Homo sapiens: one gene and its partner. The protein of the gene in region 2 purifies or fractionates together with the protein of the main gene of each other region. This does not show direct contact. Each region holds a gene or a part of one and is shown on either strand. Other genes may lie near its edges. The genes, in order: DPEP1 and ACADS.

The links.
Region 1: the proteins of ACADS (region 2) and DPEP1 purify together in Homo sapiens (affinity purification with mass spectrometry; 2 studies listed by BioGRID and IntAct, with this or other methods). This does not show direct contact.

What each region holds. Positions count from the first base shown.
Region 1 is NC_000016.10:89,623,637-89,630,824, reverse strand, and holds part of DPEP1 (dipeptidase 1 isoform a precursor), read right to left. Parts: intron 1,871-7,188; exon of another isoform or gene 1,856-1,870; intron 556-1,855; exon of another isoform or gene 521-555; 5' UTR 415-520; coding exon 311-414; intron 1-310. UniProt on the Homo sapiens protein: Hydrolyzes a wide range of dipeptides including the conversion of leukotriene D4 to leukotriene E4. Hydrolyzes cystinyl-bis-glycine (cys-bis-gly) formed during glutathione degradation.
Region 2 is NC_000012.12:120,735,687-120,740,557, reverse strand, and holds the end of ACADS (short-chain specific acyl-CoA dehydrogenase, mitochondrial isoform 1 precursor), read right to left. Parts: intron 3,573-4,871; coding exon 3,423-3,572; intron 3,203-3,422; coding exon 3,091-3,202; intron 2,722-3,090; coding exon 2,570-2,721; intron 2,510-2,569; coding exon of another isoform or gene 2,370-2,509; intron 2,279-2,369; coding exon 2,108-2,278; intron 2,026-2,107; coding exon 1,888-2,025; intron 1,739-1,887; coding exon 1,643-1,738; intron 1,419-1,642; coding exon 1,362-1,418; intron 1,263-1,361; coding exon 1,110-1,262; 3' UTR 550-1,109; downstream 1-549. UniProt on the Homo sapiens protein: Short-chain specific acyl-CoA dehydrogenase is one of the acyl-CoA dehydrogenases that catalyze the first step of mitochondrial fatty acid beta-oxidation, an aerobic process breaking down fatty acids into acetyl-CoA and allowing the production of energy from fats.

The DNA of each region.
Region 1 (7,188 bases), on a different chromosome or scaffold from region 2:
AAACTGAGCCCCAAGCCAAGCACACACGAGTCTCACCCCCAGCTCCCCCAGCCCCAACTCCCCAGGCCAAACTCCCCCAGCCCCGGCACCCCCAGCCCCGGCACCCCCAGCCCCGGCTCCCCCAGCCCCGGCACCCCCAGCCCCGGCACCCCCAACCCCGGCTCCCCCAGCCCCGGCACCCCCAGCCCCGGCACCCCCAGCCCTGGCTCCCCCAGCCCCGCTCCCCCAGCCCCGGCTCCCCCAGCCCCGCTCTCCCAGCCCCAGTTCCCAGTCCTGGTTCCCTAAGCACCTGGCTCAGGTGAGCACTCACCCATCAATGACAGGGGAGTCCCTCATGATCCTCTCTGCCTCGTCCCGAAAGAAGTCTGCAGTGCAGACGGCCACAAGGGGCCACAGCCACCATCCGCTCCACATGGTGGGGTCCCCGGGGACCTGTGTGCACTGCTGCCCTGGTGCCTCTGTGCTGGCCTGGCTGGCCCGTGCAGAAGGATGAGCTTCAGGCTGTGAGGAGCCACTCTGCCTGCCAGGAGAGGCACCAGAGGTGTGGGTGGAAGTGATGACAGGTGGCTGCTCTCCTGTTTATAGCTTCCCATGTTCAATAAGTAACCAGCACATTCCCCACCAGGGTGGGTAGGATGGAAGGCCGGACACTCAATGACTGGGCGTTGCTGTCTGGGCTAGGCGGAGGCATAGTAAGAAGCTGGGATCCCAGACCCAGGGGTGGAGCTAGAGCCCAGATGAAAGGACAGCAGGCTGAGAGCAGGCCCAGATGAGTGGTGAGTGGCTGTTGGCTCTAGCTGTGCTACTGTTATTACTACCACCTCCCTCAGGACCCGGGGGCCTAGATCTGCAAGCAAGACAACAGTCATTCAAATAGTGCATTCTCATAAAGCACCCCTTTCCACGTAAAAATCATCTTACGTGACTTGCCATGGGGGATAAACATTAGGGCGTTCCAGGAAGCTGCTGCACAGCCAGGTGTGCCCCTGGCGCCTGCCCTGTTGCTGAGGGGTCCGCACCCCCGGCCTGCAGCCCTCCAGCGTCACAGGGACCCACACTCCAGCTACAGAGCTTCAGGCCAAGCAGCTAGACACGTCCTTAGAACCGGGGCCTCTCTAGGACTCAGCAGAGCACATTCAAGTCGCCCGAGGGCTCCTGGGCACACAGTTCCCAGGTGGTGCCCTGACGGAAGAATCTTAATCCCAGGGCTGGGTGGTGTCTGGGGTTCTGGGGGACAGTGGGCTGAGCACTGGGGCTAAACCAGGCCTGCTGGGAGGAGCAGGAGGGAAAACTGGTCAGAGGCTTCGGGGGGGGGTGGGGGGAGCCCGGCAGGGAAGGAGGATCGCCCCAGCTGGAGGACAGTGGCTCCCTCTCGGCTCACTGCAACCTGCACCTCCTGGGCCCAAGCAACCCTCCTGCCTGAGCCTCCTGAGTAGCTGGGACCACAGGCGTGCACCACCACGTCTGGCTAATTTTTGTATTTTTTGTAGAGATGGGGTCTTCCCCATGTTTCCCAGGCTGGTCTCGAACTCCTGGCCTCAAGCAAACCTGCCTGCTTTGGCCTCTCAAACTGCGGGGATTACAGGCATGAGCCACCATGCCCAGGTCATGATAAATCGTATTTTCATTCAATATTTTAAAAAAATCAGAATTCATGTAAAAAAAATCCATAATGAACAAAGTATAAAACTTTAAAATAGCTGGGCACAGTCATTCACGCCTATAATCCCAGCACTTTGGGAGGCCGAAGCGGATGGATCACTTGAGGTCAGGAGTTCAAGACAAGCCTGGCCAATATGGTGAAACCCTCTCTGTATTAAAAAGACAAAAATTAGCTGGGCATGGTGGTGCGCACCTGTAGTCCCAGCTACTCAGGAGGCTGAGGCAGGAGAATCACTTGAACCCGGGAGGCGGAGGTTGCTGTGAGCCAAGATCATGCCACTGCACTTCAGCCTGGGCAACAGATCAAGACTCCATCTCAGAAAAACAAACAAACAAAACACAAACCGCCCCCCCTCCCCCACAAACCTTTAAAATAAAGACAGGCCCAATATTCTGATTTTTCCTTTTGCCTTCAGCTCCAATACTATCTACACAGCCCTGGACTCTGAGAACATCCATGTTCTGCTTGTCGCTTCAGAGGCAGAAACTGAGTGACAGGAGAGCATTTCCAAGAGCACCACACTCCCTCAGGTGCCACTAAGGAGAGAACTTGAGGCCACTGTATTTGTCCATTTTCACACTGCTATAAAGAAATACCCTTTGGGGGCTGGGCAAGGTGGCTCACACCTGTAATCCCAGCACTGTGGGAGGCTGAGGCGGGCGGATCACCTGAGGTCAGGAGTTCGAGATCAGCCTGGGCAACATGGTGAAACCCCGTCTCTACTAAAAATACAAAAATTAGCCAGGCATGGTGGTGCATGCCTGTAATCCCAGCTACTCGGGAGGCTGAGGCAGGAGAATCGCTTGAATCCGGGAGGTGGAGGATGCCATGAGCTGTGATCGCGCCATTGCACTCCAGCCTGGGCGACAAGAGTAAATCTCTATCTCACAAAAAAAAAAAAAAAAGAAAGAAAAGAAAGAAAGAAAGAAATACCTTTTGTGGCCGGGTGTGGTGGCTCACGCCTGTAATCCCAGCACTGTGGGAGGCCGAGGCGGGTGGATCACCAGGTCAGGAGATCGAGACCATCCTGGCTAACATGGTGAAACCCCGTCTCTACCAAAAATAAAAAAAATTAGCCGGGCATGGTGGCGGGTGCCTGGAGTCCCAGCTACTTGGGAGGCTGAGGCAGGAGAATGGCATGAACCCGGGAGGCAGAGCTTGCAGTGAGCCGAGATTGCACCACTGCACTCCCGCCTGGGCGAAAGAGCGAGACTCCGTCTCAAAAACAAACAAAAATACCCTTTGGGAGGCCAAGGCAGGAGGATCACGAGGTTAGGAGTTTGAGACCAGCCTGACCAACATGGTGAAACCCCTTCTCTACTAAAAATACAAAAATTTACTGGGCATGGTGGCCCTTGCCCGTAATCCCAGCTACTTGGAGGCTTTTGGAGGAGAATCACTTGAACCAGGGAGGCGGAGGTTGCAGTGAGCCGAGATTGCAACACTGTACTCCAGCCTGGGTGGCAGAGCAAGACTCCGTTTCAAAAAAAAAAAAAAAAAAAAAAAAAAAGAAGAAATATCCAAGACTGGGTTCCCCTGCCCTTCCTTTCCCTCTTCTCCCCTCCCCTCCTTCCTCTCTCTCTCTCTGAGACAGAGTCTCAGTAGGTCACCCAGGCTGGAGTGCGGTGGCACAATCTCGGCTCACGGCAACCTCTGCCTCAACTGATTCTCATGCCTCGGCCTCCGGAGTAGCTGGGATTACAGGCGCACACCACACCCAGCTAATTTTTTTTGTATTTTTAGTAGAGACAGGGTTTCATCATGTTGGTCAGGCTGGTCTTGAACTCCTGACCTAAAATAATGTGCCCTCCTCGGCCTCCCACAGTGCTGGGATTACAGGTGTGAGCCACCATGCCTGATCCCACATCTGACTTTTTTTTTTTTTTTTTGAGACGGAGTCTCACTCTATTGCCCAGGCTGGAGTGCAGTGGCGCAACCTCAGCTCACTGCAAGCTCTGCCTCCCGGGTTCATGCCATTCTCCTGCCTCAGTCTCCAGAGAAGCTGGGACTACAGGCGCCCGCCACCACGCCCGGCTAATTTTTTTCTTTTTTTTCTTTTTTTTTAGTAGAGACAAGTTTTCACCGTTTTAGCCAGGATGGTCTCGATCTCCTGACCTCGTGATCCGCCCGCCTCGGCCTCCCAAAGTGTTGGGATTACAGGTGTGAGCCACCATACCTGGCCCCACGTCTGACTAATTTTTTATTTTTACTACAGACAGTTTCACCATGTTGGCCAGGGTGGTCTCAAACTCCTGACCCCAAGTGATCCACCCGCCTCGGCCTCCCAAGCTGTTGGGATTACAGGCATGAGCCACCGCGCCTGGCCAAGACTGGGTAATTTTTAAAGGAAAAAAGCCTTCATTGACTCACAGTTCCACATGGCTGGGGAGGCCTCAGGAAAATTACAATCATGGCCGAAGGCAAAGGGAGGCAAGGCATGTCTTAAATGGCAGCGGGGGAGAGAGTTTGAGGGGGGGACTGCCAAACACTTTTAAAAACCAGATCTTAGGCTGGGTGCGGTGGCGCACGCCACCGCGTGATCCAAGCACTTTGGGAGGCCGAGGCGGGTGGATCACCTGAGGTCCGGAGTTCGAGACCAGCCTGACCAACATGGAGAAACCCCATCTCTACTAATAATACAAAATTAGCCAGGCGCGGTGGCTCATACCTGTAATCCCAGCTACTCGGGAGGCTGAGGCAGGAGAATTGCTTGAACCCGGGAGGTGGAGGTTGCGGGGAGCCAAGATTGTGCCACTGCACTCCAGCCAGCTTGGGCAACAAGAGTGAAACTCCGTCTTAAAAACCACCACCACCAACAAAAACAACAACAAACAGATCTTGTGAGAACTTTCTCGCTACCACGAGAACATGGGGTGAATGGCCCCACGATGCACTCACCTCCAGCGGGTCTCTCCCTTGACAGGTGGGGATTATAATCTGAGATGAGATTTGGGTGGGGACACAGAACCAAACCGCATCACTCAGCTCCACCATTCAGTGCCCAGTGCAACATGAAAATGCGGCACCCTTATTCACACATCGCAAGAATCTCAGGGCCTCTCAGGGCCTCACAGTGGCGGGAGGACGGGGGGCAGGTAGAGGGAGGCACATGTCTTCCGAGCACCAGACCGGGGCCGAAAGCCACGCGTGGACTGCATTTTGCACCGTTTCTGAGGCTCAAAGCCACGGACTTAATTCAACACGAGGGCGTCCTGGGGGTTGGGCAGGGCCCCGTGTCCTGGTAGGCTGTGGGTTCCCCTCTCACGACCACTGTTCAAGGGCAGCGTGGGTGAGCTGGTTCAATTTCTCGGCCTCAGTCTCTTCGTCTGTCAAGTAGAAGTCATGGATGTACCTACTTTACGACAGTCCTGCTGTGAGCACAAAGGTACCAGCCACTCAGATCACCCTCGGATCAAGGTAGTCACCTTACACCTGTCTTTTCCGTGGGGTTTTATAGTTTGTCCCAGAGTTTCCAGTTGCCTTTCTTCTCCTGCCCTACACTGGGTGCCCTTATCTTCCATCTTCCAAGCTCTGGACTCTGCAACCTCCCTCCCTGCCCCCAGAGCCTCCCCTCGTCCAACCTGCTACTCCCAGCCTGGAATGTCAGTGCTCACTTAATGCCTGCACTGAAGGTCTTCCACCTTTGTTTGGTTTATAGTCCTGATAGAGTTTGAATGTTTGTCCAGATCTCACGTGGAAACTGGATCCCAGTTGGGAGGTTTTGTGTCATGGGGACGGGCCCCTCATCAATGGCTTGGTGCAGTTCTGGAGGTAATGAGTTCGTTGGGAAGAGAACTGACGGTTAAAACGAGCCTGGTACCTCCCCCCTCACTCTCTGCCTCCCTCTCTGCACGTGATGCCCTGGGAGCAGGAGAATAGGGTCTGGGGGCAGGGAACTTAGGCCAATTCGTGCTGAATCAAGGAAAAACAGCGAGGCCTGGGGCAGGGAATGGGACGCTAATTTGTGCTGACTTCCTAAAAGAGAAAACACCAAGGTCAGGGGGAGAGAGTCCGAGGCCAAAGCACGCTGAATCCAGGAAAAACTTCAAGGTCTGGGGCAGGGAACCCAGGGCCAATTAACACCAACTTCCAAAAACTACACCCTGAGGAAGAGCCCCACGCCCAGTAGCAAAGGATCAAAGGCTGCTCTCGTACAGCCCCCACCACCATGTCCCAGATGGAAAGGAAAGTGCTGTGGACTGGCTGCGGGCCACCCTTTCATCTGCAGACACCAGTTTACCTCAGCCTTTGATTAGCCACGGACCAAATCTTTCATCCAGATAAGAGGTATAGGAACCATGAAAGGTGCCCTTAAGACCCAGAAAACTGGCCGAGGGGGTGGCTCACACCTGTCATCCCAGCACTTTGGGAGAGTGCGGCGGGTGTATCACCTGAGGCCGGGAGTTCAAGACCAGCCTGGCCAACAAAGAAAAACCCCGTCTCAACTAAAAACACAAAAATTAGCCGGGCGTGGTTGCGGGCGCCTGTCATCCCAGCTACTCCGGAGGCTGAGGCTGGAGAATCGCTTGAACCTGGGAGGCAGAGGTTGCAGTGAGCCGAGATGGCGCCACTGCACTCCAGCCCGGGCGACGGTGTGAGACTCCCTCTCAAAACAAAAAAAAAACAAACCCCAGAAAACTATGTAACAGCGCCCCTCTCACCCCACTCCCGACCTTTCTCGCTTTAATAAATCCCTGCTTTCGCTGCTTTCTTTCCGTGTTTTGTTCGTTACTTTGCACGTTTTGTCCACTTCTTTGTTCAAACGCCGAGGACATGGACTATTACGGTCCAGGCCATCCTTCCAGTGACACCTGCTCCCTCCCCTTCTGCCGTGATGAGAGGTTCCCTGGGGTCCTCACCAAAGGCAGACGCTGGTGCCACGCTTCCCATTCAGCCTCCACAACCATGAGCCAAACCCACCCCTTTTCTCTATAGATGACCCAGCCTCGGGGATTTCTTTGGAGCAATGCAAAGCAGACTAAACCCTATTCCATTAGAGTTGGCCCTGCAACCATTCCCTAGCAGCGGGTCGGCAGGAATTCACTCCCCAGTCCTCCTGTCTGTCTTTATTCTGCCCTCATCAGTAGTTTCTCTGGATGTGCACTTTGGGCGGGAAACCTTTGTCCCTCAGGAGGTGACCGCACCACAGTCCGTCTGTGCATGTGTGGTGGATGGGCCCGGCTGTGTGTGGGCAACCGCTGTTCCCTCCAGGCCTGGAGCTGCCTCTTTCCTCGGAGCGCCACGACTTCTCAGCCACGTGCTTTAGTGTGAGGCTTTTTCACTCCCTGGAGCGTTTCCTCTGCCTCCGGTCCAGGGAATTTCCAGTCGCCCGTATCCCTCTTCTTCCCCTCCTTTCTGAGCTCCGTCTGGCCAGGGTTTCAGGCAGGGGTTGCACTGTCTGAGCTTCCTTTCTGCCTCCTGTCCTGGCTTTCTTCCTGCTTATCCTGTGCACTCCATTTCCTCTGTTTTGTCTCCCAGCACGGTTCTTTCGTGTTTTCTTGGGGGTTGTGCGTCTGGTCTCCGGA
Region 2 (4,871 bases):
GTTTTCTCTTCCAGCTGCTGAGATCGACACTGGCCCAGAGGGTTAAGAGCTTGGACCTTGGCTTCAGGGGCACCTTTGCCCAGAGAAAGCCCTGCAGGCACCAGGACCAGGGCAAGCCCCCGCACTGGCTGGCCAGGGCCGCCCCCGAGCGCGCTAGTGAGCACAATGGCTGCTTCTCGAGGTTCTGTGTTCTCCCACCTGGGGCTCGAGGCCTCCACAGCTTTGCTCCCCGACTCTGGCAATCTGGGGCCTTCCTTCCTCCTGCCTGGAGGCTGGTCCTGCGTAGAGAACCCCTTCTAGCCCACTGGCCCTGCCTGGCCCACCCTCCCTCCCCAGGGGCCACTCCCTGAGGCCTGCAGGACCCAGTTCCTATTCCTGAACTGCCTCCTTGGCCAATCTGGCCTCTGCCGGAACTCAGGAACCTCCCAGGTGGCCAGGCCCCTCCCCAAGACCCCCAACACTCACAGGGTGAGACTGTCAGAGAGCAGGACTCTGTGCAGAGACCACCATCCCTCCCCGGAGCACCCAGGAGAGGGCGAGGACACAGACTGGGGGACAGGTGTGTTTATTACCCACAGTCAGTCACACAGCATGAATCACCACCCCTGCCTTCATCAGACTTTACAAAGGGCTGAGGGGCCTCTGGGCCAGCTCCATGGCCCAGCCCCACCACCTGCCCAACACCAGGACCCCAGGCCTCGTCATCCTGACCCCAGCCCTGCTCCTGACCTCTGACCTCAAGGAAAAGACAGACCCCACCAAGGGCCTGTCGCACTGGGCCTTCATGCCAGGGCACCAGGGCCCGCGGGAGGACAACTGAGGTGTCCCTGAGTGTCGCTCAGCCCCCCCACAACCCCGCCCCCAGGAGGCCAGGGCCACTTAGATGAGGAACTTGAGGCACAGTGGTGAGGAGGCGGAAAGGCCCAGAGGCGGAGCTGCCAATGGTCGGAGGGCCTCATTCCCATGTGATCTGATCTGGGTGGCAGCACTGAGCCCATCTGGGGTCCCCAGGGAGCCCCCGCCGGGCCGCCCAGTCTCTGAGCCGGGGTTGGGGTGGAGGCCCCTGGCTCCCGCGCCTTCCCGCAGTCCTGGGGCAGTCCGCCGCGGGCTCAGCTCCGGTAGCTCCTGAGCAGATGCCCGGCGATCACCAGCCGCTGGATTTCGCTGGTGCCCTCGTAGATCTCAGTGATGCGGGCGTCGCGGTAGTGCCGCTCTGCCGGCATCTCTGTCACGTAGCCCATGCCGCCCAGGATCTGGATGGCCTGAGATGAGAACAGTGGCTCAGGAGGGAGAAGACCCCGGCGTGGGGAAAGCTGGAGAAGGGGCAGCTGGCCCCCTCAGAGCTCACTGTGGACACTCACCTGGTGGCTGATGGCGGTCGCGGCCTCCGAGGCGGCCAGCTTGGCCATGGCTGCCTCCTAAACATGGGGGTACAGTCAGAGCCTTCCCTTGAGGGGACCCCTCCATCCCCTGCTCCCCCACTCCCTCAGCAGGGGAGGCCTGTGGAGCCTCCCCATGGGGCTGTAAACCCCAGGCCCACACCTCTGACCCACGGGGCCAAGGAGCAGAGACCCGCCCCAACCTCTCCCCGTCCCTGGGCCCACCACATTCTGGGCCATGGCTCGGGGACCCCTGTGGGCACCTTGATGAAAGGCTTCTTGTTATCCTTCAGCATGGCAGCGCGCCAGGTCAGCAGCCGGGCACTCTCCAGGGCCAGGGCCATGTCTGCCAACTTGAACTGCAATAGCCCCACCCCACACCACAGGTCAGCAGCTGCCCCTCCAGGGGACAGAAGGGAGGGGGAGGAGGACGGAGAGCAGTCAGGAGGCCACACTCTCCGCCCGCTGTCCAGCCTCTAGGCCCAGCTCCTAAAGCTGCCACCATTACCTGGATGACCTGGAGCTTGGTGAGGGGCGCCCCGAAGGCCATGCGATTCTCAGCGTAGTTCACAGCACAATCGAGGGCGGTCTGGGCAATGCCCAGGGCCTGGGAGGCGATGCCGATGCGGCCCATGTCCAGGGTTTGCTGTGGGGACCGCCCTGGTCAGTGGCCCGCCAGCCGGGGCGCGGGCCTGGCCTCAAGGTGCCACCCCCACTGCCGGGCTCACCATGGCTATCTTGAAGCCCATCCCTGGCTCCCCCAGGATGCTGTCCTTGGGGATGCGACAGTCCTCAAAGATGAGGTTGGCCGTGGATGAGCCCCGGATGCCCAGCTTGTCTTCTTTCTTCCCCAACGTGAGCCCAGGCGTTGGCATGGGGACCAGGAAGGCACTGATGCCCTGAAAGGAGAGGCGGGTGGTTTTCTCAGAGCTGCCCCTCAGCCACACCCTCACACCAGCACACCCAACACCAACCCGGTCCCCTCCCCACCTCCCTCAGAAGCTCAGGCCTTGACACCCTCTGCCGGCTTCTGGGGAAGGTGCAGGCTTCAGTGGCAGCTGAGGAGGGACAGGGACAGCCCACTTGCCCCAGAGCAAAAATAGGTCCAGTCGGGCCAAGGAGAGAAGGCCCTAGAAACAGAAATGACAGCAGCCCAGGATCCGGCTGAACCCCTCTCTGGGTGGGCCCACCTTGTTTTGCAGGGCTCTGTCCGTGCTGGCAAAGACCACGGCAGCCGAAGCCTCCCAGGCATTGGTGATCCAGGCTTTGGTTCCATTCAGAACCCATGAGTCGCCCTCGGCCCGGGCGGTGGTGGACGCAGCTCCTGCATCACTGCCGTTCCCTGCCCACACAGACCCAGGGCTCAGCGCACGCCCCACCCCACACAACCTAAGGGCACCAGCCTCACTCCCTCCACACCCCTGCTGGCAGACACGAAACCCTATGACTCGGGCTCCAAAGATGAGGGTCCCAAAGCTCTCAGTGATGGGACCAGAGGGCGAGGGGGGTGTGCAGGAGCTGGCGTCTTAAACCAGGGGACCCCGAAGGCAATCTTCCTCCCAGCGCCGCGGTGGCAAGAGCGCTCACCCTACCAACCACACGGGGAGCCTCCCCTCTGGCCTCCGAAGCAGTGGGCAGTTGGCCTAGCACCTTCCTCTCCTCCCCTCTGGGCCTGTCACCCTAAGGACAGGTGAGGGGACAGGGCAGGTACCTGGTTCGCTGAGGGCAAAGCAGCCAATTTTGTCACCACTGGTGAAAGGCGTGACCCACGCCTGCTTCTGCTCCTTGGAGCCAAACTTCAAGATGGGCCCCAGGTAGAGAGACTAGGAGGACAGCGGGGAGCGGTCGGAGGCCCCAGGCCCAGGCGCATCCTGCCCACCTGCGGGCTGCACCTCAGGGCCTGTTCTGTCCAGGGCCTACCCAGTAGGACCAAGGCCTGTGACGTCTCCAGAGAGATCAGGGCTGGGAGCCGAGGCCAGAGCCTGCCCGCTCACGGGAGCCTCCCTCCACCCGTGTGTCCCAGGGGCCTGGGAGGGGGCTCACGTTGTTGACACTCATGATGACTCCGGTGGAGGCGCAGCCACGGCTGATCTCCTCCATGGCGATGGCGTAGGCCAGGTAATCGAGGCCAGCACCGCCAAGCTCCTCGGGCACGTCCATGGCCAGAAGCCCAAGCCCGCCCATCTTCTTCACCTGGGCACAGGGAAGGACGGCACGCCATGGGCAGCTGCCGGGGGCGAGCCCACCCTCCCCAAGCCCAAACCCTCCTGCCCCCGAGGCAGTGCCCTGCAGAAACTCAGGCCATGTGACCCCAGCCACGCACAAGGGATCCCCAAGTCCAGAAGCTGAAGACCCAGTCCCACTGAGGTCTATATGATGGCACTTCTCATTCAAGCTGTCCTGCCCCCGCCTCCACGCCTGCTCCCCGCTCCGTCCACAGCCACGGCAGCGAGCAAGCAGAAGGCACAGGATGCTTTCAGGGAACTCAGAGGTAAGGAGCAGGACAGCGTGAGCCACACTGACCTTCGTCCAGCCCCCTCTGCACATCCACACACACGCACCCTCCCCACCACAGGGCCTCTGCACATGCCACCTCCTATCCCTCAGCTGGTTATTGCCCCTCCTCTCCTTCTGATCGCAGCTCAGGCCTCGCTGCTTTGGGCTGCCATCCCCAGCCTCGCTGAGTCAAATCCTTCAGTCCCTCTCCTGCAGCACTTCTGCGGCTGGAATTTCTCAGGGATGAACGTGCTTCTCTGGATTAAGGTCTTTTGCCTTCACCACGAGGGCACAGACTGTGTGTGCTCTTGCTCACTGCTACATGCCCAAGGCCAGTGAGAGAATGAATGAAGGATAAGAGCTTGGGACTCTTAATTCTGGGTAATAATCATATTAAGAGTGGGCCAGGAGCAGTGATCACACCTGTAATCCCAGCACTTTGGGAGACCAAGGTGAGGGGATTGCTTGAGGCCAGGAGTTCGAGACCAGTCTGGGCAACATAGCAAGACCCCATCTCTACCAAAAACAAAATAATAATAATAGTATTATTACTTTCAGGTGAGTAATATGGGAAATGTGGACCACAGAATCTACCTAACTTCAAAAAGGAACAAGTAAAACCACTTATCTCTGGGAGAGCAGGGACAGGGACAGGGACGGGGACAGGGACAGGGACGGGGACAGGGATGGGGACGGGAGGGAACCGTTGCTTTTCACGAGCCCTTTTATACAATCTCATTCCTGCAAACATGTTATTTTATTTTATTTTATTTTATTTTATTTTGTGACAGAGTATTGTTCTGTTGCCCAGGCTGGAGTGCAGTAGTGCAGATCTCGGCTCACTGCAACCTCTTCCTCCCAGGTTCAAGCAATTCTCTGCCTCAGCCTACCGAGTAGCTGAGATTACAGGTGCCCATAATCACGCCCAGCTAATTTTTGTATTTTTAGTAGAGACGGGTTTTCACCATCTTGGCCAGGCTGGTCTTGAACTCCCGA